Linked DNA regions of Homo sapiens. The protein of the gene in region 7 purifies or fractionates together with the protein of the main gene of each other region. This does not show direct contact. Each region holds a gene or a part of one and is shown on either strand. Other genes may lie near its edges.

Region 1 (3,500 bases), on a different chromosome or scaffold from region 7:
TATTTCCTCCTTTATATTTTTAGAAGATGATTAGCTTAATAGTCAGTGTCAGTTGTGATTTAAGATTCTCTTAACCTTTTCTGGTTTTCTTTTATTATGCTACACCTATGTTATTAAAACAAGTTAAATGTGAATCGTGACTAGTAAACTTTTCTCCTCTTGAACACACCTGGAATCTAAAGGTGACTAGTTTTTTTACTTGTTACAGAGTACTTACACATTTCATTGCATTTTCCCCTAGAATGGGTTGACACAGTGTGGGAACTGGATTTCACAGAGACTGAGCCTTTGGATCCCAGCATAGAAGCAGAGATCATAGAGACTGGATTGGCTGCATTCACAAAACTCTATGAAAGCCTTTTACCCTTTGCTACTGGAGAACATGGATCTATGGAGGTAAAAATATAAAAACAAACTAGCCAAAGTTTGGTGTTAGAAGTAGAAGATGAAAGTCATTATTATAATCTGAAGCTTAGCTTTCTTGGTGTACAGTTCACAGGGAGTACAATATGAGTAACATAAAGAATGTGGTTAATTTATTGGAATATCCTAAGAGCTTTCCTCCAAAAGCTTCAAGGTACTTGTCTGATTTTTTTTTTTTAAGACACGACTGTTTTTTACAATAGCAAATTAAAGGAAAAGTATAAGGCCGGGTGTGGTGTCTTACGTCTGTAATCCCAGCACTTTGAGAGGCTGAGGCTGGCCAGTTGCTTGAGCTCAGGAGTTTGAGACTAGCCTGGGCAACATGGCAAAACCCCATCTCAGAAGGAAAAAAAAAAAGGAAAAATATAAAGGCAAAAACAAGAAAACTAGACCAAGGAAAATGCAAATAACAATTCAGACATGCCTTAACCTTAACTTTAAGAAAATCTGCGACCAGGCATGGTGGCTCATGCCTGTAATCCCAGTACTTTGGGAGGCCGAGGTGGGTGGATCACGAAGTCAGGAGTTCAAGACCAGCCTGACCAAGATGGTGAAACCCCATCTCTACTAAAAATACAAAAATTAGCCGGTTGTGGTGGCGGGCTTCTGTAATCCCAGCTACTCGAGAGGCTGGGGCAGATAATTGCTTGAACCCAGGAGGCGGAGGTTACAGTGAGCCGAGATCACGCCACTGCACTCCAGCCTGGGCGACAGAGCAAGACTCTGTCTCACAAAAAAAGAAAATCTGATATTATTAAACTGAGGAATGACTAGTTGAATTAACAGGTTTGTCCAAACAGTTCCTGTAAATATTGAGTTCTATCCAATGCATAGAAATATAAATTATTATTAATATTTAGGTTGTTAGTTTTCAAAAAAAACCAAAGGGTTGGGAAACAGAACAAAAGCTAATTGGATATTAACATCTCTGAAACATTTAAATGAACAAAAAAAAATTCACTTCCAAGTTTCACATCACAAAATTAAATCATCTAATTAAACATTCCTTCAGCATAACACTAAGCACTGCCTTAAGTACCTGAGTTGACAGAGTGGGGATTACGATACAATCTCCCTAGGTTGAGGTCCTCCCCAGGGACCTCAGGGAGGAAGAGTGGACATTTGAACACTAGCCAAAGTAGGTCTAGCAGCCACATGCAGTTGCAGGGGGTGGAGAGTTCAGTGCCACTGTGCATTTGGGCGCCTGGAAATATTCTACGAACCACACTGTGAAAAATGCTCCAAGAGAGGTGCGGATTTGTTGCATAGGGTGTGAAAAAGGGAGCATGGTAGGGTTGGGAAAGTTCCAGAAAGAAAGTGGCCAGCAGCGAATCTTCACAGATGACTAGCAGAAGCTTGGGTTGTAAGGCAGTCCTAGTGAAGGAGCCACCCAATGGGAACACGCAGGAAGTGTCAAGAGGCATACAGAAAAAGTGTGGTGGAACGGGATGGTAAGGTAGAGTAAGGGTAGGTCACGGGTAGCTTTACGTGAGGTTCAGCAGTGGAGTTTGAACATGTTTGGTAGAGTGTGTATGAGGTTTTGTTCTAAGCGTCCTGCATGTATTAACTCATTTAATCCTCAAGCAGCCTGTGTGAAAGAGGTTACAGTGGGCAATAGATAGGTAACATGAATAGATCTGTTTTAAGCAGACGTTCTTGACAGTAGGTGGACTGAAGTGGGAAAAATTGTGTGCAGGGAGAGCCCTTGGGAGACTGTATTGGTGATCCAGGTGTTATGAGTAATAATGGCATGATCCGGAGTTACAATTTTGGGAACTGGAAAGGAAGACTAAAAACTAGGGACATTTTTGGAATTAGAATTAATAGGGCCTTGTGAACTAGGAAGCCCTTTTGAGATATCTTAAAAACATGGTGTGAAGTGCTAAACTGACTGGGCATAGGGAATTAGAAAAAGAAAGAAGTCAGTGATCCCCAGGGTTTCAAAACTAGGAAGATGATGATATTGTTAACCAAGGTGGGGAATAAGGGAAAAAGAGCAAGGTCAAATGGAGAAACAGTTCTGTTTAGACTTCTGAACTTGAGATTCTGTCAGGAGATCCTTGGGAAGTTTAACAGGTAGTAGAAATGTGAGACCAGGAGAGAGAAGAGAGTTCTTTAAATTGAGGTATGGGTTGAAGCACAGTGATGCATGAGATCACCGAGGGTGAGAAGCAGCCAGGACAGAAATGGAGAGCTGATTGGACGGGGTCTGCAGAGGAGCAGTCACATGTAGGGAGTGCAGGGTCACTGACGCCCAGACTAGACAGCAGCCATGGGATCACATGGGGCCAAGGTGACCCCATATGCAGAGCCCTGGTGAGCAGATGGTTTAGGGTGATCGATCACCCTCGTGTGTGAAGTGGAGGTGCAGGTGGCATTAGGAATGAGGATGTGACACTGTAAAGTTAGGAGATGATTTCTTCCCCCCCCCCCCTTTTTTTTTTTTGAGACCAGGGTCTTGCTCTGTCACCCAGGCTGGAATGCAGTGGCACAGTCAAAGCTTACTGCAGCCTCAACTTATTGGGCTCACATGAGCCTCCCACCTCACCCTCCTGAGTAGCTGGGACTACAGGTGTGTGCCACCACGCCCAGCTAATTTTTTATTTTTTGTGGAGACAAGGTCTTGCTTTGTTGCCCTGGCTGTTCTCAAACTCCTGGGCTCAAGCAGTCCTCCTGCCCTGGCCTCTCAAAGTGCTGGGATTACAGGCATGAGCCATTGTGCCCAGTGGAGATGATTTCTCCCGTAAGTTTTTTAGTTAAGGAAAGGAGAGTGCTCTGCTCACTTGAATTTTGTGGGCCTTTTTTTGTTACGATACTCAAGGATAAACCATATTTAGTTCCTGCTATGTTTAGGTTATTAAAATAACCCATTTCTTCTTCATGTGTTTAGTAGGAGAAGACATGGAATGAAGATAGAATTAATACAATTGTGGTTTCTTTTCTAGGGTTTATCTCCTTTACCTGGGCCATTTCCGAGATCTCTTTCATTTCCTGCTCCCATTGCCTGCAATCTGCAGAACATTTAAATAAAGGGCTCTGATTTCCTCAGTTAGTAATTATTGGTAAAGGAATTTGAG
Region 2 (3,500 bases), on a different chromosome or scaffold from region 7:
CTAAAGAGATACTGAGATGAATAACTTATTAATTTCCTTCTTAAAATCATAATTTTGGATCTGTAAAGGACTATACAAAAAAAAATTTTAGTATTATACCTGCATTTTATAATTGTGGAAATGGAGGCCAGAAAGAATAAGAGGCAAGTTAGGGGCAGATCTTGGGTTTGGATCAGCTCTTCTGATGCCTGGTTCTGTGACATTACAAAGCCTGAAATTCAGCTCCAACATCTATTAAACATTTGCAGAGTATCAGCTGGGTGCGGTGGCTCTCATAAGGCCAGGAGTTCAAGACCAGCCTGGCCAAGATAGTGAAACCCCATCTCTACTAAAAATACAAAAATTAGCCGGGCATGGTGGCAAGACACCTGTAATCCCAGCTACTCTGGAGGCTGAGTCAGAGAATTGCTTAAACCTGGGAGGCGGAGGTTGCAGTGATCCCAGATCGCGCCACTGCGCTCTAGCATGGGCGACAAAGCGAGACCCCATCTCAAAAAGAAAAACAAAATTTTTTTGCAGAGTATCTACTGTGTGTCAAGTACATTACCCAAGACTACAAAGAGAAATACAATTTAGCTAATGTCCTCAAGAAGCTAACAGTATACTAAAAGAGATATGTAGGCATCAATTATAGTAATGACATAACATATTCTAATAGAGGTAAGTACATAACACAGTGGGCATGTCTAGTTGTCTTTGTTTCTGCTGTTAAAACAGAATATCACAGACTGGGTGATGGGTTGATTGATTGACTGATTGAGGCAACTCTGTCACCCAGGCTGGGGTTCAGTGGCATGATCACAGTTCACTGCAGCCTCAACCTCCCTGGATCAAGCAATCCTCCTGCCTCAGCCTCCTGAACAGCTGGAACTACAGGTGTGAGCCACCATGCCCCACTAATTTTTATTTATTTATTTTTTTTTTCTGAGACGGAGTCTCAGTTTGTCGCCCAGGCTGAAGTGCAGTGGCACAATCTCAGCTCACTGCAACCTCCACCTCCCGGGTTCAGTTTTCCTGCCTCAATCTACTAGGATCTAGCTAGGATTACAGGTGTGCGCCACCATGCCCAGCTAATTTTTGTATTTTTAGTAGAGACGGGGTTTCACCATGTTGGTCAGGCTGGTCTCAAACTCCTGACCTCATGATCTGCCCACCTCGGCCTCCCAAAGTGCTGGGATTACAGGCGTAAGCCACCGCGCCCAGCTAATTTTTAAAAATATTTTATAGAGACAGGTCTCACTATGTTGCCCAGGCTCGTCTTGAACCCCTGGGCCCAGGCGCTCCTCCCACCTTGACCTCCCAAAGTTCTGGAATTACACATGTGAGCCAACACACCAGGCCCAGACTGGGTAATTTATAAAGAAATTTACTTCTGCCCACACCGCCCCGCCTCCCCGCGCGAGTGGCTGAGGCGTAGCGCTGCCATCCCCGCACCCCTGGGAACATGGCGCTGCGAGTGGTGCGGAGCGTGCGGGCCGTGCTCTGCAGCCTGCACGTGGTCCTGGCACCTGCCGCGCCCTGCCTATCGAGGCCCTGGCAGCTTGGGATGGGCGCCGTCTGGTTACTGTAATCTGCCTGAAGTTGGGACAAAATTGAACAAACAAGATGAGTTTGGTGCTTTGGAGAGTGTGAAAGCTGCTAGTGAACTCTATTCTCCTTTATCAGGAGAAGTAACCGAAATTAATGAAGCTCTTGCAGAAAATCCAGGACTTGTAAACAAATCTCGTTATGAAGATGGTTGGCTGATCAAGATGACACTGAGTAACCCTTCATAACTAGATGAACTTATGAGTGAAGAAGCATATGAGAAATACATAAAATCTATTGAGGAGTGAAAATGGAACCACTAAATAAGCTAGTATGAAATAACGCAACCCAGCAGAGTTGTCCTAAATTAGTGGTGGATAGAAGACTTAGAATAGCAACTTTTAGCATTACCCATGGGAAAAAAAAACTACTGTTAACACTGCTAATGAAAGAAGATGCCTTTTAACTTTCTAATGATTGTAGATAAACATAATATGTGTCTTTTTCACAACATCCTATGATTTTTAGACTAGGCTCTAGTATTCATGAAATTATCCATGAAATTATCCATGGTAAAAATTAGTTACAAAAATTACATAATTCAAAGATAATGTTGTTATTCTTAAGCCTTATATAATATTGTAACTTGTGTATGTCCATACCTGGACTTGGGATGAAATACTTAATGATCTTTCCATTGGAAATAACTGGGAGTGAAGAAGTTTTTGTTGCTTGTACAGTGTCAGATGAAGAACAACACTATCTTAATTTTGCAATACACTGCATTTGCTGGTGCTGTTTTTATATAGTGAAGCAACAGCTGTACAGCAAAATAATAAAATACTCACTTCTTCGTTAAAAAAAAAAAAAATTTACTTCTTACAATTCTGGAGGCCAGGAAGACCATGATCAGGTGCCAGCATCTGGGAAGGGCCTTCTTGCTGTCCTCCCATGGCAGAAGATGGAAGGGCAAGGGAGAGCTAACATGCTCCCGCAAACCCTTTTTATAATGGCATCAATCAAATATGAGGCCAGAGTCCTTGTGACCTAATCATCTCCCAGAAGGCTCCGCCTCCCAACCCTGTTGCATTGGGATTAAGTTTCCAACACATGAATTGTGGAGACAACACATTCAAAACATAGCATTCCACACCTTGGGCTCCCCAGATTCATGTCCTCACATGCAAAATAAATTCATTCCATCCCAATAGCCCCTAAAAAGTCTTAACTTGTTCCAGCATCAACTTTAAAGTCAAAGTCCAAAGTCTCATCTAAATCAGATATGAGTGAGACTCAAGGCATGATTCATCATGAGACAAAGGATGTACATTTGCAATGTTTGTCATGTCAGACAAAACAAAAATATGTAAATATCCATCAATAGGGAACTGCTGAAAAATTTTTTTGTATAATCATAAAATGAAACATGCAGATGTTTAAACCAATGAGCTAGATCTCAACGTGCTGATATGGAAAGTGCTTCAGAATGTATTAAGGACATAAATTAAGTGTACAATAATGTGTGTGTGTGTATATATGTATATGCTTACGTGTGTATGGAAAGTATCTCAGCAGATACAATAAAAACTTAATTGTGATTACCCCTGGATCAATTAACATGTGGTATAGTATAAGGAAATGAATTTTATACCTTGATCAAACATTTGAAAAATTTTACAATATACTGCTTTATAATTTTTAGAAACAACATATTGTGGCCAAGTGCGGTAGCTCACGCCTGTAATCCCAAAGGCCAAGGCGGGCAGATCACCTGAGGTCAAGAGTTTGGGACCAGCCTGACCAACATGGAGAAACCCCATCTCTACTAAAAATACAAAATTAGCCAGATGTGGTGGTGCATGCCTGTAATCCCAGCTACTTAGGAGACTGAGGCAGGAGAAACGCTTGAACCTGGGAGGTGGAGGTTGCGGTGAGCTGAGATCACACCATTGCACTCCAGCCTGGGCAACAAG
Region 3 (3,500 bases), on a different chromosome or scaffold from region 7:
GATCTCGGCTCACCGCAACCTCTGCCTCCTGGGTTCAAGCAATTCTCCTGCCTCAGCCTCCTGAGTAGCTCAGATTACAGGCATGCGCCACCATGCCTGGCTAATTTTGTATTTTTAGTAGAGACAGGGTTTCACCATGTTGGACAGGCTGGTCTTGAATTCCCGACCTCGGGTGATCCACCTGCCTCGGCCTCCCAAAGTGCTGGGATTACAGGCGTGAGCCACTGCGCCTGCCGTCTTTTCACTCTTGATAGTATCCTTTGATGCAAAAAAGTTTTAAATTTTGATGAAATCCAGTTTTTCAAGTTTTTTTCTTTTGTTACCATATCGAGTTTTTTCTTTTGGTGTCATATTCAAGAAATCATTGCCAAATCCAGTGTCATGAAGTATTTCCCCTTCCTTTTTCTCTAAGATTTTTATAGTTTTAGCTCTCACATTTAGGTCTTTGCTCCATTTTGAGTTAGTTTTTGTATATAGTGAAAACTATGTGATGTTTTTGCTTTTTTTTGCATGAGAATATTCATTTTTCTAGCACCATTTATTGAAGAGACTGTGCTTTCCCATTAAGTGGCCAGGCCGGTCTCAAACTCCTGACCTCAGATGATCCACCCGCCTTGACCTCCCAAAGCGTTGGGATTACAGGCATGGGCCACCGCCTGTCCTCAACAGTGGTTTTTGCAGAAATAGAGAAACACAGCCAGGCGTGGTGGCTAGTTCAACCTAGTTTGAATAATATCAACTTAGTTTCAATAATATACAAACGCTCTGCTCCTATATGTCTCTCCCTCCCACTTCATTATGTCTCTCCTGCTTCATTATCACAGATTACAGTTTTATACCTTGGGTGCCCATTACATCAATTCATAATTATTGTTTTATGCATTTGCCTTTTAAATCATACAGGATGAAAAATGAGGAATTATAAACCAAAAGTACAGTAATACAGGCTTTTATATTTATCTATGTAGTTACTTTTCCTACATAGTAGTAAAACATACATGTTTTTTGTTTTTTTCTTGTGGTTTTGAGTTACTTTCTGGTGTCCTTTCATTTTAGCCTGAAGGATCCCCTTTAGCCTTTGTTTGTTTCTTTTTTATTTTAAAGTCAGGGTCTCACTTTTTCAGCCAGGCTGGAGTGAGCACAGTGGTGCAATGATAGCTGCACTGCAGCCTCAACCTGCTGGGCTCAAGCGATCTTCCCACCTCAGCCCCTGAGTAGCTGGGACTACAGGTGTGTGCCACAGCACCTGGCTAATTTTTTTTTTTTTTTTCTAATTTTTTTGTAGAGACAGGGGTCTCGCTTTGTTGCCCAGGCTGGTCTCGAACTCCTGGCCTCAAGTGATCCTCTTGCCTCTGCCTCCCAATGTGTTGGGATTATAGGCATGAGCTGCTGTGCCCAGCCTATTGCCACTTTCAAGATTCATTCTTTGTGTTTGGGTTTTGACACTTTGGTTTTAATGTTTCTTGGTATGAATTTCTTTCAGTTTATCTTGCTAGGAGGTTTTTGAGCTTCCTGGATGTACATATGAATGTCTTTCATCAGATTTGGGATGTCTGCAGCCATTATTTCTTTTTCTTTCTTTTTTTTTTTTTGCATGTTATTTTTATTTTATTTTATTTTTTGAGATGGAGCTTTACTCTTGTTTCCCAGGCTGGAGTGCAGTGGCCCGATCTCGGCTCATTGCAGCCTCCGCCTCCCAGGTTCAAGTGATTCTCCTGCCTCAGTCTCCCAAGTAGCTGGGATTACAGGCACTTGCCACCCACACCTGGCTAATTTTTGTATTTTTTAGTAAAGATAGGGTTTCACCCTGTTGACCAGGCTGGTCTCGAACTCCTGACCTCAGGTGATCCACCCACCTTGGCCTCCCAAAGTGCTGGGATTACAGGTATGAGCCATTGTGCCTGGCCGCATTATTTCTTCAAATTTTTTTTCTATCCATTTCTTTCTTCTTTTTCTGGGACTCCTATGATGTGTATTTGGTATACTTGATGATGTCCCACAGGTCCCTCAAGGTTTTGTTCATTTTTTTTCCATTATTTTTTCTCTTTGCATTTTAGACTATGTAATTTTAATTACCTTATCCTCAAGTTCACTGATACTTTGCCTGCTCAAACCTGCTGTTGAACCCCTCTAGTGAATTTTAAAATTTATTGTACTTTTTAGCTCCAGAATTTCTGTTTGGTTCCCTTGTATAATTTCTGTCTCCAATGTGTTCACACATTGTTTTTCTGATTTCATTACTTCTTTGTCCATGGTTTCCTTTAGCTCATTGGACATATTTAGGACAATTGATTTGTGTCTTTACTAATAATTACAATGTCTGGGTTTCCTTAGGGGTGGTTTCTGTCAAATTATTTTTTGGTCAGGTGTGGTGGCTCATGCCTATAATCCAGTACTTTGGGAGGCCGAGGCGGGCAGATCACTTGAGTCCAGGAGTTCGAGACCAGCCTGGCCAACATGGTGAAACCCCAACTCTACTAAAAATACAAAAAAAGCTGGGTGTGGTGGCGTGCACCTGTAGTCCCAGAATCTCACTCTGTAGCCCAGGCTGGAGGGCAGTGGTGCAATCCAAAAAAAAAAAAAAAAAAAAAAAAAAAGCAAAAGTGTATTTGTCTGTTTTACATTTTATCCAACATTTCCTTTTTTTTTGAGACGGAGTCTTGCTCTGTTGCCAGGCTGGAGTGCAGTGGCGCGATCTTGGCTCACTGCAACCTCCACCTCCCAGGTTCAAGCGATTCTCCTGCCTCAGCCTCCTGAATAGCTGAGACTCCAGGTGTGTGCCACTGTACCTGGCTAATTTTTGTATTTTTAGTAGGGACAGGGTTTCACCATGTTGGCCAGGATGGTCTTGATCTCCTGACCTCGTGATCTGCCCACCTTGGCCTCCCAAAGTGCTGGGATTACAGGCATGAGCCACCGCACCCGGCCCATAAATCCACCATTTCTAAATGTTTATAGTAGAAGTAGTATTACATTATTGCAAAATAGTAAGTGAACTCATGGAAAATGGAGTTTATTTCCACTGAAGACTTCTATGCCAGGATAGTGGGGAGGAAGAGTTCACTCAGAGGTGCCAGTGATGGTCATCATGGTAGTTGTCACCACAGCTCAGTCTGTTCCTACAGTAGAGGAAATGACTTGGAATCTTTCCTATTAGGAATAGAGATGAAAGGGAAGCAGATAGACATGTTAGAACTAATCCCTTACCCATTCTGGGCTTAGAGAGCAAGATTTTTCAAAGGGGACAAAGAGTTAAACTGCTCATAGTAAACTGGGGAAAAGTCGTGTGTATCTGAAAGAAGCTAATCTATGGCCTTAGGTTTGAGACTCATCAGCTAGGAACCCTCCTAAAATCTTGTATCTATAGGAGCTAGGGTTTGTTGTCTGTTTTGTGTTTTTTTTGTTTTGTTTTGTTTTTTTTTGAGACGGAATCTCGCTCTGTCACTCAGGCTAGAGTGCAGTGGCGTGATCTCAGCTCACCGCAACCTCCGCCTCCCGGG
Region 4 (3,500 bases), on a different chromosome or scaffold from region 7:
GGCTCAGCTGCCCTGCCCCTCCCAGTGCTGGAGAAGTGGAAGAACATCACGGGCCACACCCTGCTGGAGCGGTATGGCATGACCGAGATCGGCATGGCTCTGTCCGGGCCCCTGACCACTGCCGTGCGCCTGCCAGGTACGAGCACTTCCCACAGCTGCGTTCCTCTTCCACTGTGCTCTGAGCCCCCCAAGGTGGGCCAGTCTCGAACCACCCACATTCGGACTGAAGGGCGGCATGGAGGATGCTCCCCCGTGGGACAGGCCACTCGGCCAGGAGAGCACTCAGGATGCACTGCGACCTGTCCCCTCTGGGTAGATCAGCCTTCTCCCAAGTCTCAGTCGGGTGGATGGGGGAGGTGTCTGTGCTGGCCCCTGGCTGTATGACTGGGGAGACAATGGGAAGAACAGCAATGCCTGGAATGCAGGCGTCAGTGCATGTCTCAGAGGAAGGCGGGGGGCCATGCTGTTGGCTCCAGACCACATCAGCAGTGGTGGCAGCCTCCGTCTGTCTGGAGTCCGGGTGCCACACAGCGCCAGCAGCAGTGCCAGGAGAGGTGGGTGTGGTGGGCAGGGTGGGATGAGTCAAGCACCTGTCTTCCTTCTCTAGATGTGGGCTCCTGATACCGGGCCCCTCTTGTCCAGCCTTCCCTAACACATCCCATTCTGACTTTCATCTGACCCAACCATTTGAGCCCTGGGTCCTCCGCTGGGACTTCTGGGAACAGAGCCCACAGCTGGGGGGCCACCCTGCTGCTTTCTGCGCAGCCCTTCCAGTCTGTCTAGAGTAGAAGAGAGATCTCAGTGCAGACTTAAAGTGAGACCATCCCGCACATCTGTCTGTGCAGCTGCTTACCTGCAGACCCAGTAAAAATTCACCCCTCTGGCGTGCAGCTCTGTGTGTCTTAAGAAACATCATCACAGTCAAAATAGAGAAGGGTTCCTCGCCTCAGAAACTCCCTTCCTAGTGCTCAGCACCTCCTCCACCCCCGAGGCCTGGCCCCTTGTTCCTGTTTCTCTTCTTGTGGTTTTGCTTTTTCTGGGAGGCCACGTGGCTAAATCCTGCAGGACGTGGCCTCTGAGCCTGTCTGCTTCCGCCCGGCTTCCGCCCACAGTCAACTGCCTGTGCTGTGTGCGTCAGAGCCCGCGCCTTTCCCTGCTGAGTGGCATCCGTGGTGTGGGTGCGGCACCGCTTGTGACCCTGTTTTAAGCAATGACACGTGAGATGTTATCAACATTTGTGTGCAGGTTTCTGTGCGAACGTGGTTTTTTATTTCACCTGGGCAGATACCTAGGAGAGAGATTGCTGTGTTGTCTGAAGCTTTCAAGCTGTTCTCCAGAGCGGCTACACCATCCCCTTCCCCCTGCAATGGGTGGGAGGTCACGAGCACCTGCTGCTCCAGCGGGCGGTGGTGGTGTCTCGTTGAGTTCATGATTCTCTCATGATGGGTGGCGTTGAGCACCTCTTCCTGTTCGTGTCATTCCGTTTTCAACTGGGGCCTTTGTTTTCTTGAGTTTTGAGAGCTTTTAAAATTCGGGACCCAAGTGTCAGCTGTGCGATTTTAAATATCATCTCCCAGCTTGTGGTTTGTCTTCCCATTCACCTAACAGCGTCTTTAAAATCAGGAGTTTTAGGTTTTGGCCCGGTTTATCAATTTGTTTTGTGAATTGTCTGATGTCATATCTAATAAATCCTTGCGTAGCCCAAAGTCACAGAGAATAGTTTCAGCTCTTACGTTTGGGACCATGATCCATTTTGAGTTAATGTTTGTACATAGTGCGAGATACGGACCACAGTTCTTTTTTAGTGTGTGAATGTCTAACTTTTTAGCACTGTTCGTTGAAAAGACTCCCTTCTCCATCGAACAGCCCTTTGGATCTTTGTTGAAAGTCCGTCGACTCCTGAGGGGTCGGCTCCTGGGCTCTGCTCTGTCCCATTGCTTTCCGTGTGCCCTTTGGCTCATTCCATGCCTGCTTGGTTCCTGGGACTCTAGGGTAAGCGTGGACATGGGGGTTCAGGCCCAGGCAGGGACCAGCTGGTGCCAGGCAGCGATACGGTGCTGGGGCCTGCAAGGTGAGTGTGAGGGCTGGCTGGCTGCTGGGCTGGGAGGAGGAGAGACTGTAGGCTCACGCCCCTTTGCTGGGCCTGGGGAGCCATGGGGGCTGTTAAGTGTATTCTGAGTGTAAAGTCTCGGTTTGGCTGGGGCATCCTGAGCAGAATGACAGGGCCATGGCAGCGAGATCCTCAGCTGCCGTGCAGAGCTGCCAGTGGGGTGGCCGCACAGAGTGCAGTGCCTGCTGCAACAGTGCCCAGGGCAGTGGGCGGGTGGGGGCATGTTGTGAAAAGAAGTCAGTGTGAGTGATGAGAAATACATCCTAGTCTCAGACCCCAGGAAACCGCCGTCAGTGCTGGTGGCCCCTGCCCTGGGCCGGCTCCCGCGTTAGTCTCAGACCCCAGGAAACCTCCACCTCCGTCAGTGCTAGCGGCCCCTGCTCTGGGCTGACTCGCGCATCTCCACGATGGCTGCGGCACCAGCTGTTTCTTCGGTGGCTAAAGCTCTCTGGTGGAAATAAGATGGGGACCTTGAAATCAAATGTGACTGGTCTGTTGAGTCTCTGTCCTTATCGTTGTCCTTCTTAGTAGGATGTGCTGGTTTTGTCCAGTGCCACCGGCCACAGTCACCACGTAATATGGACGGAATGAGCAAAGCCCGGCTCGCTGAGGCTGCAGGCTGCAGGCAAGTGAGGACTGAAAGGGTAACGGGCTCTGGGCTTTGTCCTCTCTTTGTTCCGGACATGTGAGCAGGACAAGTTCTGTGTATTCAGAATCTGTCTGCACAGTTTGTAGTTCATGATGACTGTTCATCCACAGCATTGCTTTGTGGGCGTCCTCTCTTTTGATCTTCTCGAAACAGCCCCTGCGATGGGGTCATATTTTGCACTCACATACAAGAACCCATGAGCCTGCCCACGGTCACGCGGCTGGTGAGTGATGCACTTCCCAGGAGCACGGTGACCTCTTCAATGGCCCTCACTAGAGAAGATGGACAGTGCCCCCCTAGCCTTTTTTACTGGAACAGATACAAGGCTGAGAAGCTGAAATCAGGAGCAGCCCAGGGACCACTGTCTACACCGAGGGAGTCATGAGCAGCCCAGGGACCACTGTCTACACCCAGGGAGTCAGGAGCAGCCCGGGGACTGCTGTCTACACCGAGGATGTCAGGAGCAGCCCAGGGACCACTGTCTACACTGAGAGCGTCAGGAGCAGCCCAGGGACCGCCGTCCACACCAAGAGCGCCAAGGAGCAGCCCAGGGACCGCCGTCCACACCGAGGGCGCCAAGGAGCAGATAGTAGCCCAGAGACCCAGGGGAGGCTCAGCTTCCCCACGCTGGAATCAGAACTCCTAGGCGAACAGGAAGGAGCCCCAGACAGATGGCACAGGGAGAGGAGTCCCCGGCTGAGGAGGGGGATCCAGAGACCCTGAAGCTTCAGGGTTATTGGG
Region 5 (3,500 bases), on a different chromosome or scaffold from region 7:
TGCTTTACCTAATTCTGAAAGTCTGTAGGTAAGCATTCATCCCTTATAATTTACTGTTTCATTTTAAGTTGTTGACTCCAGTATGTATTTACGTTTCCTTATACCACTCATCACAGATCAGCCTCTTTATTTTTAAAAGCTGGTGTGTCCCTTGAACTCAACATTCAGGGAAACGTCAGCCTGTTGTTCTTTTAAAGAATAGTGGTGAAGTTAGAATGGTGATCATTAAAAAGTCAGGAAACAACAGGTGCTGAAGAGGATGTGGAGAAATAGGAACACTTTTACACTGTTGGTGGGACTGTAAACTAGTTCAACCATTGTGGAAGTCAGTGTGGCGATTCCTCAGAGATCTTGAACTAGAAATACGATTTGACCCAGCCATCCCATTACTGGGTATATACCCAAAGGATTATAAATCATGCTGCTATAAAGGCACATGCAAATGTATGTTTATTGCAGCACTATTCACAATAGCAAACACTTGGAACCAACCCAAATGTCCAACAATGATAGACTGGATTAAGAAAATGTGGCACATATACATCATGGAATACTATGCAGCCATAAAAAATGATGAGTTCATGTCCTTTGTAGGGACATGGATGAAGCTGGAAACCATCATTCTCAGCAAACTATTGCAAGGACAAAAAACCAAACACTGCATGTTCTCACTCATAGGTAGGAATTGAACAATAAGAACACATGGACATAGGAAGGGGAACATCACACACCGGGGCCTGTTGTGGGGTGGGGGGAGGGGGGAGGGATAGCATTGGGAGATATACCTAATGTTGGATGACGAGTTAATGGGTGCAGCACACCAACATGGCATATGTATACGTATGTAACTAACCTGCACGTTGTGCACATGTACCCTAAAACTTAAAGTATAATTTTTAAAAAGTGATAAAAATAAAAAAATTTTAAAAATCACATATAAATACTTAAAAAAAAAAAAGAATAGTGGTGAAACAAAACAAATAGAGCTTTTTAGTATTCCCTCCAGTTAAACTGTCATTGCCAGTATTTTGTTTTCTATATACATGTAATGATTATGTAATGATTATATTGGCTATTTTAATAACTGAATTATAAATATTTTATAACATTCATTACTGCTTGATCAGAAAAGTAGGGGGGTGAAGGAGAGGGGCACTAGTTGAGAAACGACCTGTTGGGTGCTATGTTCACTATTTTGGTGATAGGTTCAATAGAAGCCCAAACCCCAGGATTGCACAATATACCCATGTAACATACCTGCATATGTACCATCTGAATCTATAATTTTTTTTAAGTATTCATTCTGTTTTATATAATTTTTAAAGGATTACTACTTCTGGTGGTTGGTGGTGGTGGTGGTGTTGTTTTATTGTACCTTGAGGTCAAGTATCTAGGGGTATGGTTTTGATTTATAGCATGTTATAGAGAAGATGGGGTTCCATCTCATTAATGTATTTTAAAACCTGCTTTTCAAAAATGCATGGATTTGAGGCAGATGTTGAAAAATTCTGTAAAAACTATATTTCAGAAAATGCACAAAATTAATAATTTTATTTTAGCTAAAGTTGACACTACCAGGTATCCCCCTCTCCATCTTCTACATTGCAAATCATAGGCTAAGTCCTGCTTCATAAGATGTCCACAATTTTTTTCACTAATTGACTTTCAGAATGGGCATCTGGCCATTAGTAAGCAGGCCAATACACATTCTTAGATTTGATTTTAGAAGCCTATTTACTGTCACTCCTAAACACTGAATAAAAAAAGTTTTAATGCCAAGTGAAAAAAGCAAGGTGCAAAAGAATACATCCAGTGTGATACTGTTTTTAAAATGTTTCAAAATAAACAAAGCTGAACTATATTGTTTAGGGATACATGCCTATGTGGTAAAACTGCAGAGAAAAAACGAGAATGGTTAAAGAAATGTCAGAGTGGTGATTACCTTTGGTGAGGACAGGAACCTCCAGGAAGCAGAAGTGTTAATGGCAATGTTCTCTCTTAAGTTGGCGGCTCGGTTCCCAGGTGTTCATGTTATCATTGTTCCTCATAACTTACATATACTATAAATATTTGTGTGTTATCTATATCAAATTTTTACTAAATGAAATTACTGGATTCTGTTCTATTAAAATAAGGATGTAAGAGACTTGTTCAGGTCTAAATATTTGCAGATTTATTTTCGTAAATATTTAGAATGCCCTTTCCTTAATATCTTTTCAGATGCAATGTTTAGAGTTTTATATGGATTTTTACTTGAATCCCAATTTATTCATGCAACTATAACAGCTGGTGGCATTTAGATTCTAAATACTGCTTGTTCTCCTATGTATGCATCATTAGAATCAGGTGTTATAATCATCCATGGCTGCAATAGATGGAAAATCAGTCAGAATAAATACAGTTCTGGAGAATGCAGAGGGAATAATTTGAAGATATAATTTGTATGTAAGAATTCATTTTGTTTATGCATGTGGTTATACATTTTTATCTTGTAATAAGAATGACATGTAGGCCAACCAGACTGAGTTTGTTAAATGTGATACTTAATGTTTGATTGTATCTGTAAGAGACTATCTTCCAAACTCTCCCTCATTTTCTTTCTTTAACACTATTTAGCAAATATTTCTTCAGCTCTATTCCATAAGGCAGTGGGCACCCAGATGTTTCCATATGCATGGTTGTGCCTTCTTTTGACCTATTGCAGGTAAAATTGCCTACTTCATGACCTATATCAATTGCTGTAATACCAACTTGTCTAATCAGTTTTGTAAGATACTTTCTAACTTTTTACTCTGTGTATTGCCTCAGCATACTGGTGCATTCTTACCGATTTTAGGAAAATGAATAATTTTTCTTTTTTCCACCCAGCTGCTGATAAAGATGATAGTTCAGAAGACATTTCAGTGCCGAGTAGTCCACATACAGAAGCTATACAGCATAGTTCGGTCAGCACATCCAATGGAGTCAGTTCAACCTCCAAGGCAGAAGCTGTAGCCACTTCAGTCCTCACCCAGATGGCGGACCAGAGTACAGAGCCTGCTCTTTCACAGATCGTTATGGCTCCTTCCTCCCAGTCACAGCCCTCAGGAAGTTGATTAAAAACCTGCAGTACAACAGTTTTAGATACTCATTAGTGACTTCAAAGGGAAATCAAGGAAAGACCAGTTTCCATTTATGCGAAATCTGTGGTTGTAAATTTTTTTTTTTTACTTGAAATTAAATTTGGCTCTAAAGTTGGTGTAGCAGCAGTTGATCAGACTGAAAAACGGTTTTTAGTCTCTGGAAAAAGACTGATTTTGCTTTTTTTATAAATATTATTAGATTTATTAATTTTTCTGTGCTCAATGTGTAAATTGTATTATAATTCATTGTGATTTATTTCACTTTTAATTTGCTGGTGTTTTAATAAATGGGGGTGTTACTGAATCTTTCTTCCCACTTCCATTTCTTTTGACCACCCCTTAACCCTCAACTGTGACGGTAGTAGTATTATCATTTAT
Region 6 (3,500 bases), on a different chromosome or scaffold from region 7:
ACCTTGGAAGCTTGAGTTCCTGGCCGTAGCAGGAGAGGAGGTCAGACGCGCCTCACTGTACCCCTCCCTCCCCAGCCACCATTAGGCTTCTTCACTAAGGGCTAAACAGAAACCAGCCCTTTTCAAAGACTCTACACTGCTAATGTGGATTACTGGTTTATCTTCCCAGATACAGATTAAAGACAAGATGAGATTAATGGTTCCTTCACCCTTCCCTGAGAGGTCTGCTTAGTTCTCTTCCTCTGTTTCCTTCTATCTTAGGTAAAATGTACATTTACTGGGCACTTACTGAAGTCTCACAAGTACGTAACCACTCACCTCACAGCCACCCTCCCTCTTTGAAGGACCACATGTAATTACTAAACCTCCTGAGAACCTCTTGGGACAGAAACAAGCACAGATGTGCCGTGACTCATGTTTTTCCTGTGGGCACCCTCAGGCTGGCTCAGTAGCCCTCACTTGCTTGAGATCCTGAATCTGCGGGTTGGCGTCTTTCATGGTTGCTGGATCATACTCTGCCGTTATCTCTTCGGATATGAGTTGCCCCTAGCCCACTATCTGGCCCCTCTCTTTAGGGACCTCTGATTGAACATACATTAGACCTTCTCTCTCCTGCTGTTCCTGATCACTCTTCTGTCCTGTAATTGCTGCTTCTTGTGCTGCATTCTGGGTAATTTCTTCTGGTCTTTTTTCCAGTTTACTAATATTGTATTCTGTTATAAGGTCCTTCCATTGAGTGTTTCTTTCTTTCTTTTTTCCCAAACAGCAACTCAAAACAGACATTGAGTTTTAATTTTGGTTCCTGTACTTTTTATTTCTAGAAGTTCTATTTGGTTATTTTTCAAGTCTGCTACATTATTACATAATTTTTTAATAATTTTATATCTTTAATAGATAGTTTTTTGTTTTGTTTTGTTTTGTTTTGTTTTTTGAGACAGAGTCTCGCTTTGTTGCCCAGGCTGGAGTGCAGTGGTGCAATCTCAGCTCACAGCAACCTCCGCCTCCCAGGTTCAAGTGATTCCCCTGCCTCAGCCTCCCAAGTAGCTGGGATTACAGGCACGCATCACCACGCCTGGCTAATTTTTTGTGTTTTAGTAGAGACAGGGTTTCACCATGTTGGCCAAGACAGTCTCGATCTCCTGACCTCGTGATCTGCCCACCTCGGCCTCCCGAAGTCCTGGGATTACAGAGCTGAGCCACTGCGCCTGGCCTTTGATAGATATTTCAAGTTCATCTTTTTTTTTTGCTTCCTTAATTTTTTTTTTTGCTATACCCCATGCCTCCAAGATAACAGTTTTTTCTTTTTAATTTAAATATAATACAGTTTTACTGTGTATCCAAGAATATCTGAAATCTTTCGTGGGTCTCTTTCTTTTGTCTTTTGTATCTGTTGCTTTTTGCTGGGCTGAGCCTGCTTAAAACAAGCCCCGTTAGCTGTAAAGGTTTACCTTAGAAAGTCAGGTGTCTTCCTCTGTAACTCTCTCCCTTTTCCATCTGCTCCAAGGCATTTATTTATATTAATCTTGACGCAAAGGGAAGTTGTGTCCACTTCACCTTGGCCAGTAAGGAAGCAGTGTTTGGCAGATGTTGTTACTCCTAATAATGCCAGCCAGTGAGTGAAGCTGACCTGAATGCCTCCCAGGGCTGAGGCAATGGCATGATCACCGAAGCTCAAACCAGAGACAGTTTCACCTTTCTGACTGAATAGTGTTCGGTGTAGGCCAAATGCCTGCAGACTACTGTTTGAGGACTGGTGTGGTCTACCAGGTGTTTCCTTAGCGCCTGGATGTCTCTGGCTGCCATCCCAGGGATAGAGCATGGTGTTAGATACGCTAGATGCCTGCCGAAGTAATTATGGGTGAAACATATGATGTCCAAGATTTGCTTTTAAAGGCTCCAATACCTCCTCCCAGATTCCGGAGGGCTGTGAAACAATTAGCTATGAAAACTGGTAATTCCTGAAGCTGGGTACATGGGGGTTCATGATCCCTCTCTCACCTTTTTTGGGGGAGAATGTTTGAGACTTTAATAAGAACTTGTTGCCTTTTCCTTTTACAGGGTGTTGCAGGCATCTTCCTCAGGCCTGTTTTCTCTGTTTTCCAGGCTGACGTGATGGCAGACAGGGTTCCCCGCTGCCCGGTCTGCACCGGCGTTGTGAAGCCCGACATTGTGTTCTTTGGGGAGCCGCTGCCCCAGAGGTTCTTGCTGCATGTGGTTGATTTCCCCATGGCAGATCTGCTGCTCATCCTTGGGACCTCCCTGGAGGTTTGTCAGCAGGCCTGTGCAGGGAGGAGGCTGGAGGGCAGGGGAAGGGAGGGGTACAGGAGTCATCTCATGGGCTGTCGGCAGGCCTGTGCAGGGAGGAGTCTGGAGGGCAGGGGAAGGGAGGGGTACAGGAGTCACCTCATGGGCTGTCGGCAGGCCTGTGCAGGGAGGAGGCTGGAGGGCAGGGGAAGGGAGGGGTACAGGAGTCATCTCATGGGCTGTCGGCAGGCCTGTGCAGGGAGGAGGCTGGAGGGCAGGGGAAGGGAGGGGTACAGGAGTCATCTCATGGGCCCTTCCAGGGCTGGTGCCACTTTGGGAAGGTGAATGGATTCAGCTGGGGTTCCAGGCTGAGGGAGCAGCAGCCTGTGCAGGAGACAGGAAGGTGGGAAGCTGCTGGGCTTTGGAGGTGGTATAGGTGTGGGTGGGGCACCACGTGTGAGGAGAAGGGAGAAGGATGGGGGTGTGGGGGCGAGGTGGAGGGGCAGGGCCTCCCAGGTCAGATCAGGAATACTGATGCTGCAGTGGGAGGAGTGATAAATCCACAGGGACTGGCCCGGGGACGTAGCTGCACCCTTGGGGTCAGGGAGGCCTTTGGGGAGTGGAGAGTGGAGCAAGCAGTGCCAGGAGGCTGGTCCTGGAGAAGGTGGAGCTGTGGTCGCCTGAGGGATGGCGAGGAGGGGGACTGGACTCGCAGTCTGTGATGTTTTGGGGACGTGAGAAGGAGGCGTCTGGCTTGGTCTGTAAGGTCAGGGCACTTGCTGGTGAGGCGTGATTTGGGAGGGAGGATGCCCAGCTCGGTTCTGTGTGTGTCTGAGGTGTCGGGAAACATGCCCTGGATGTGTTCAAGCAGCTGTTCTGCGTCTGCGTCTGCAGCTCAGGAAATTCCTAAAAGCTGTGATGAGAGCAAGAAATGAGACCATGAAGTCAGTGTGTGCGTGACTGGATGTAGGCACCGAGGACAGAAGGGCCAGAAAGACCTGTGCTCAGAGGGGCCCAGGGCAGCCACAGGGGCCCAGAGCATGTGTTTGTTCAGGCATTCATTGTGTGCTGGGCCCTGCTCCAGTGCTTTGGACATACACGGTCAGATGTCAGTGTAAGAAGTTATATAGTTTGTTAGGAGATGATTGATGTTATGAGAAAGATAACAAGTAGGATAGAAAGGCTAGAAGGGTTGGGAACCAGCTGCAGTGTCAAGTCAGGCAGGTGGAGTTGGATCTAAGAGTTTACCGAGGTGA
Region 7 (3,500 bases):
ATTAGCTGAGTGTGGTGGCTCACACCTATAATCCCAGCTACTCAGGAGGCCAAGGCAGGAGAATCTCTTGAACCCGGGAGGTGGAGGTTTCAGTGAGCCAAGGTTGTGCCACTGTACTTCAGCCTGGGCAACAGAGCAAGACTCCGTCTCAAAGAAAAAAAGAAAAGAGAAAAAGGGGAGTCCTAGTAAGTGTGCCCAGTCTGTCACCATCAAGATAGTGAGGGTCAGCACAGTGGCCTGCAAGTCAGAGTAAGCCTGGGATGAGACTTCAGAGCTGCTCTTCTCAGACTGCAGCTCTGCTCCTCAGTTTCTACCTCCCAGAGTCTTGTGCATCCCAGAGTCCAGGCTGAACCGGGCCCTCTGGCCCAGCGAGTCCTTTGCATTCCTAGGCAAGGCTGGTGCGTAGCTAGTGAACATCTCCCTGATGTGGTATTATTAGGGATTGAAGAGTTCCCCTGAGCATGTTTGGTTTTCTAGATACAAGTTGAGTATTCCTTATCCTAAATGCTTGGGTTTCAGTGTTTGGGGTTTCATATGTTTTCAGATTTTGGAATATTTGCCTTACACTTACTAGTTGAGCACCCCAAATCCGAAATCTGAAATCCATGCTCCAGTGAACATTTCCTTTGAGCAGCATATTGGTGCTCAAAAAGTTTCAGATTTTGGAACATTTTGGATTTCAGATTTTCAGATTTGGGATGCCCAACCTGTAATAGAAATTTACTCATTTACTCATTTACATACCAAACATTTAACATTTTTTGGCTTCCTTAAATTAGTATGCTGAACTTAATAAATAATTGGAAAATGTGGAGAAATTTATGTATGTATTTATTTTTAATTGGGCAGCCCCCAAACCAAAATAGGTTCAGAGAGGCTCCATCATTTTTTAAATAAGCTATAATTTTCAGCCTGGGGAACATAGGGCGACCCTGTCTCTACAAAAACTTTAAAACTTAGCCAGGCATGGTGGTATGCACCTATAGTCCCAGCTACTCAGGAGGCTGAGATGGGAGGATTGCTTGAGCACAAGAGTTCCAGGCTGCAGTGAACTGTGATTGTGCCACTGCACTCCAGCCAGGGGCACACAGCAAGACCCTGTCTCAAAAAAAAAAAAAAAAAGAATTTATAATTCCACCACCAAAACATAATCTCTGTTAATATTTATAGTTTCCTTTGTTTTTTGTTTATTACATTATATTTTTATGTAGCTGGGATCAAAATGTAAATATGCTTTTATATCCTGCTTTTTTCACTTATGTTATTGTGAGCATTTTCTTCATATTCTTAAAATTGTTCATAAGCATTAACTTACACTTTGCTTTCTACTGCTTCAGATGTATGCACCATGCGCCATAAAACCATTTCACTGTTGCTGGACAATGAAATTGTTTCCAATTTTTTACTGTTAGAAATAAGGCTAGATGAACATCTTTATCCTTCAAGTTCTGCCCAAAACATTCTAATTTCTTATTACAGATTTTTCTAGGAGTGGGTTAAAGAATATGACTATTCTTAAGGCTCTTAATCCTGTGACCTTATGCCTTCTAGACCAGTGGGGCCAGTTGACACTCCCACCAGCTGTCTGGACATAACATAGATTTGGTTGAAGACTCATGGTTCAATCACAACCATCAGTTCTGTCTCATCTGTTCTCAACTGTCACTTCAGGTGTCAGTGGGCCCCTTTCATTTTGCTGTTTTTAATCCATTTCTGTTGTTTCCAAACTCAGAAAGTCCGGTTTGTGTTTGGGACTTGTTGGGCAGATTGACCCAGTGTGGCAGGTGTGAAAGTGCAGGAAGCCAGAGCCAGCTGCCGGGGCCACATCCTGGTTCTGCTGCCTATAGTGGCACGTCCCTGGGCACATGGCCTAACTCACTCTCCTCGCCTTGGTTCCTTACCTGTAAGTGGAACTTGCTGGAGTCACCTCACAGGATTACTGTGATGATCAGTTAAGGAAAGCGTGTAAGGCGCAGGGCCTCCGTCAGGATTGGCAGTGGCAGTCACTGGGGATGATGTTGATGTTCCCAGTGAAAACCTGAGGGCCCTTCTGCTGAGCCCAGGGCAGAAGCAGCTACAGACTCTTGCTGCTTCAGCCCCTAGGCTTTTGAATCTCTCCCGTCTTGACCTCATTCCAGGAAGCTGGAATTTATGGGAGTTGTTTTTGTGTTCTTGTTTTCTATTTCTTTTTTAGACAAGTGAGAGGTTCTTGTTTATTAAAGGGAAAGTGCACTATACGTGGATTTAAGAACCCTGGGCAGATGTTTACATTTCACTTGCAAGATCTTTATTAATCTGCTAAATATCTGCAAATCACCCCTTGGATTTTGCTAAGAAAATTCACATGCAAGTAGGCACTTTGTTCATGCACTGACCCCAAAGGTAACATTTAATCAGCTGAAGACATAGCAGAGTCTCTCCCGTCACAAGCTCCTGCCTCTCTTTTCTCCCCATACAGGACGGGCTCTACGAGTGCATTCTCTGTGCCTGCTGTAGCACCAGCTGCCCCAGCTACTGGTGGAACGGAGACAAATATCTGGGGCCTGCAGTTCTTATGCAGGTGAGGTGCTCCTTAATTGCTTTAAGAGAAATTGAAACTCAAGCATCCAGAAGTCCAAGAGGACAATAGATTGCTGTAAGCCAGCCATTCTGAGGGGCCTGGTTTCCTTCATTGCCATCCAGTCCAAACAGGGTAATTGGTTGCATTGTATTCACTTGCTTTCGGTAAATCTGGGGCCTTGTCTGCAAATTGCCTTTGTTTCAGTGCAGTGAGGGTCACCCCAAAGGGGTGCAAACCATGCCTTGCAGATGTTTAAAATGTATTTCCGTTTGCCTGGTGGTCAGAGGCTCCCCCTCTCCCTCTCATAGGATTTGTAACATAAGACTTGTAGCGAGCAAGCAGGGGAGAAAGCAGTGTCTTTGAAGGGCAGCTGCCCAGCTATGAGATTGGAAGCTGTTTCCCAGCTAATGAAAGCCTGGATTTAGGGGTTGCTTAGAAAGAAAATAGTATTGATGTTCACTGCAAAGAAAGTCACTGTCTTTGTTCCCAGAAAGCTTGTGCTTTTTTAGATACGTGCTTTTCACAGACTCTAGGCAACTCAAAAACCAACTTCTCTTTCTCATTTTCCCACAAAAAGAGAAGTTACAGGTTTGTGTGACCACATGAGCAATATTGATTCCCAGCCATGTGAAGATTGGATAATGAAGTACACTCATACTTGTCACTTTTGCCAGCTGCTCCGAGTTGGGGATGTAGAGGTCCTCTAAGTAACACTGCTAGAGCAGGCCTATGGTCATGTGATTAACTCGTTTCAGCCTGCTGATCTCAGGCTGCTGAGAGCGCTGTGTAAGTTCAAAGAATCATTAAGTGGGACAAATACTATCTGTAGACAGGTCTGTTAAATCATTCCTTTACTCAGAGACAGCAAGTCCAGCATGGGTAGGTGCCATGAAGACAGATAAGAGTTATATGATACAGTCCCTGCCTTCACCAAATTATA

Evidence for each region.
Region 1: the proteins of SDHB (region 7) and NCAPD3 purify together in Homo sapiens (co-immunoprecipitation; one large-scale study listed by IntAct). This does not show direct contact.
Region 2: the proteins of SDHB (region 7) and NDUFS1 fractionate together in Homo sapiens (co-fractionation; 2 studies listed by BioGRID). This does not show direct contact.
Region 3: the proteins of SDHB (region 7) and MRPL45 fractionate together in Homo sapiens (co-fractionation; 2 studies listed by BioGRID). This does not show direct contact.
Region 4: the proteins of SDHB (region 7) and ACSF3 purify together in Homo sapiens (affinity purification with mass spectrometry; 2 studies listed by BioGRID and IntAct, with this or other methods). This does not show direct contact.
Region 5: the proteins of SDHB (region 7) and ATF2 purify together in Homo sapiens (co-immunoprecipitation; one large-scale study listed by IntAct). This does not show direct contact.
Region 6: the proteins of SDHB (region 7) and SIRT3 purify together in Homo sapiens (affinity purification with mass spectrometry; one large-scale study listed by BioGRID and IntAct). This does not show direct contact.

What each region holds. Positions count from the first base shown.
Region 1 is NC_000011.10:134,217,468-134,220,967, reverse strand, and holds part of NCAPD3 (condensin-2 complex subunit D3), read left to right. Parts: intron 1-241; coding exon 242-396; intron 397-476; exon of another isoform or gene 477-577; intron 578-3,500.
Region 2 is NC_000002.12:206,114,445-206,117,944, reverse strand, and holds the end of NDUFS1 (NADH-ubiquinone oxidoreductase 75 kDa subunit, mitochondrial isoform 1 precursor), read left to right. Parts: 3' UTR 1-3,128; downstream 3,129-3,500.
Region 3 is NC_000017.11:38,314,168-38,317,667, forward strand, and holds part of MRPL45 (large ribosomal subunit protein mL45), read left to right. Parts: intron 1-3,500.
Region 4 is NC_000016.10:89,114,352-89,117,851, forward strand, and holds part of ACSF3 (malonate--CoA ligase ACSF3, mitochondrial isoform 1 precursor), read left to right. Parts: coding exon 1-136; intron 137-2,638; exon of another isoform or gene 2,639-2,735; intron 2,736-3,500. UniProt on the Homo sapiens protein: Catalyzes the initial reaction in intramitochondrial fatty acid synthesis, by activating malonate and methylmalonate, but not acetate, into their respective CoA thioester. May have some preference toward very-long-chain substrates.
Region 5 is NC_000002.12:175,074,204-175,077,703, reverse strand, and holds part of ATF2 (cyclic AMP-dependent transcription factor ATF-2), read left to right. Parts: intron 1-2,616; exon of another isoform or gene 2,617-2,704; intron 2,705-2,836; coding exon of another isoform or gene 2,837-2,844; exon of another isoform or gene 2,845-2,868; coding exon 2,869-3,095; 3' UTR 3,096-3,500. UniProt on the Homo sapiens protein: Transcriptional activator which regulates the transcription of various genes, including those involved in anti-apoptosis, cell growth, and DNA damage response.
Region 6 is NC_000011.10:222,843-226,342, reverse strand, and holds part of SIRT3 (NAD-dependent protein deacetylase sirtuin-3, mitochondrial), read left to right. Parts: intron 1-261; exon of another isoform or gene 262-670; intron 671-2,103; coding exon 2,104-2,265; intron 2,266-3,500.
Region 7 is NC_000001.11:17,023,033-17,026,532, reverse strand, and holds part of SDHB (succinate dehydrogenase [ubiquinone] iron-sulfur subunit, mitochondrial isoform 1 precursor), read left to right. Parts: intron 1-2,458; coding exon 2,459-2,560; intron 2,561-3,500. UniProt on the Homo sapiens protein: Iron-sulfur protein (IP) subunit of the succinate dehydrogenase complex (mitochondrial respiratory chain complex II), responsible for transferring electrons from succinate to ubiquinone (coenzyme Q).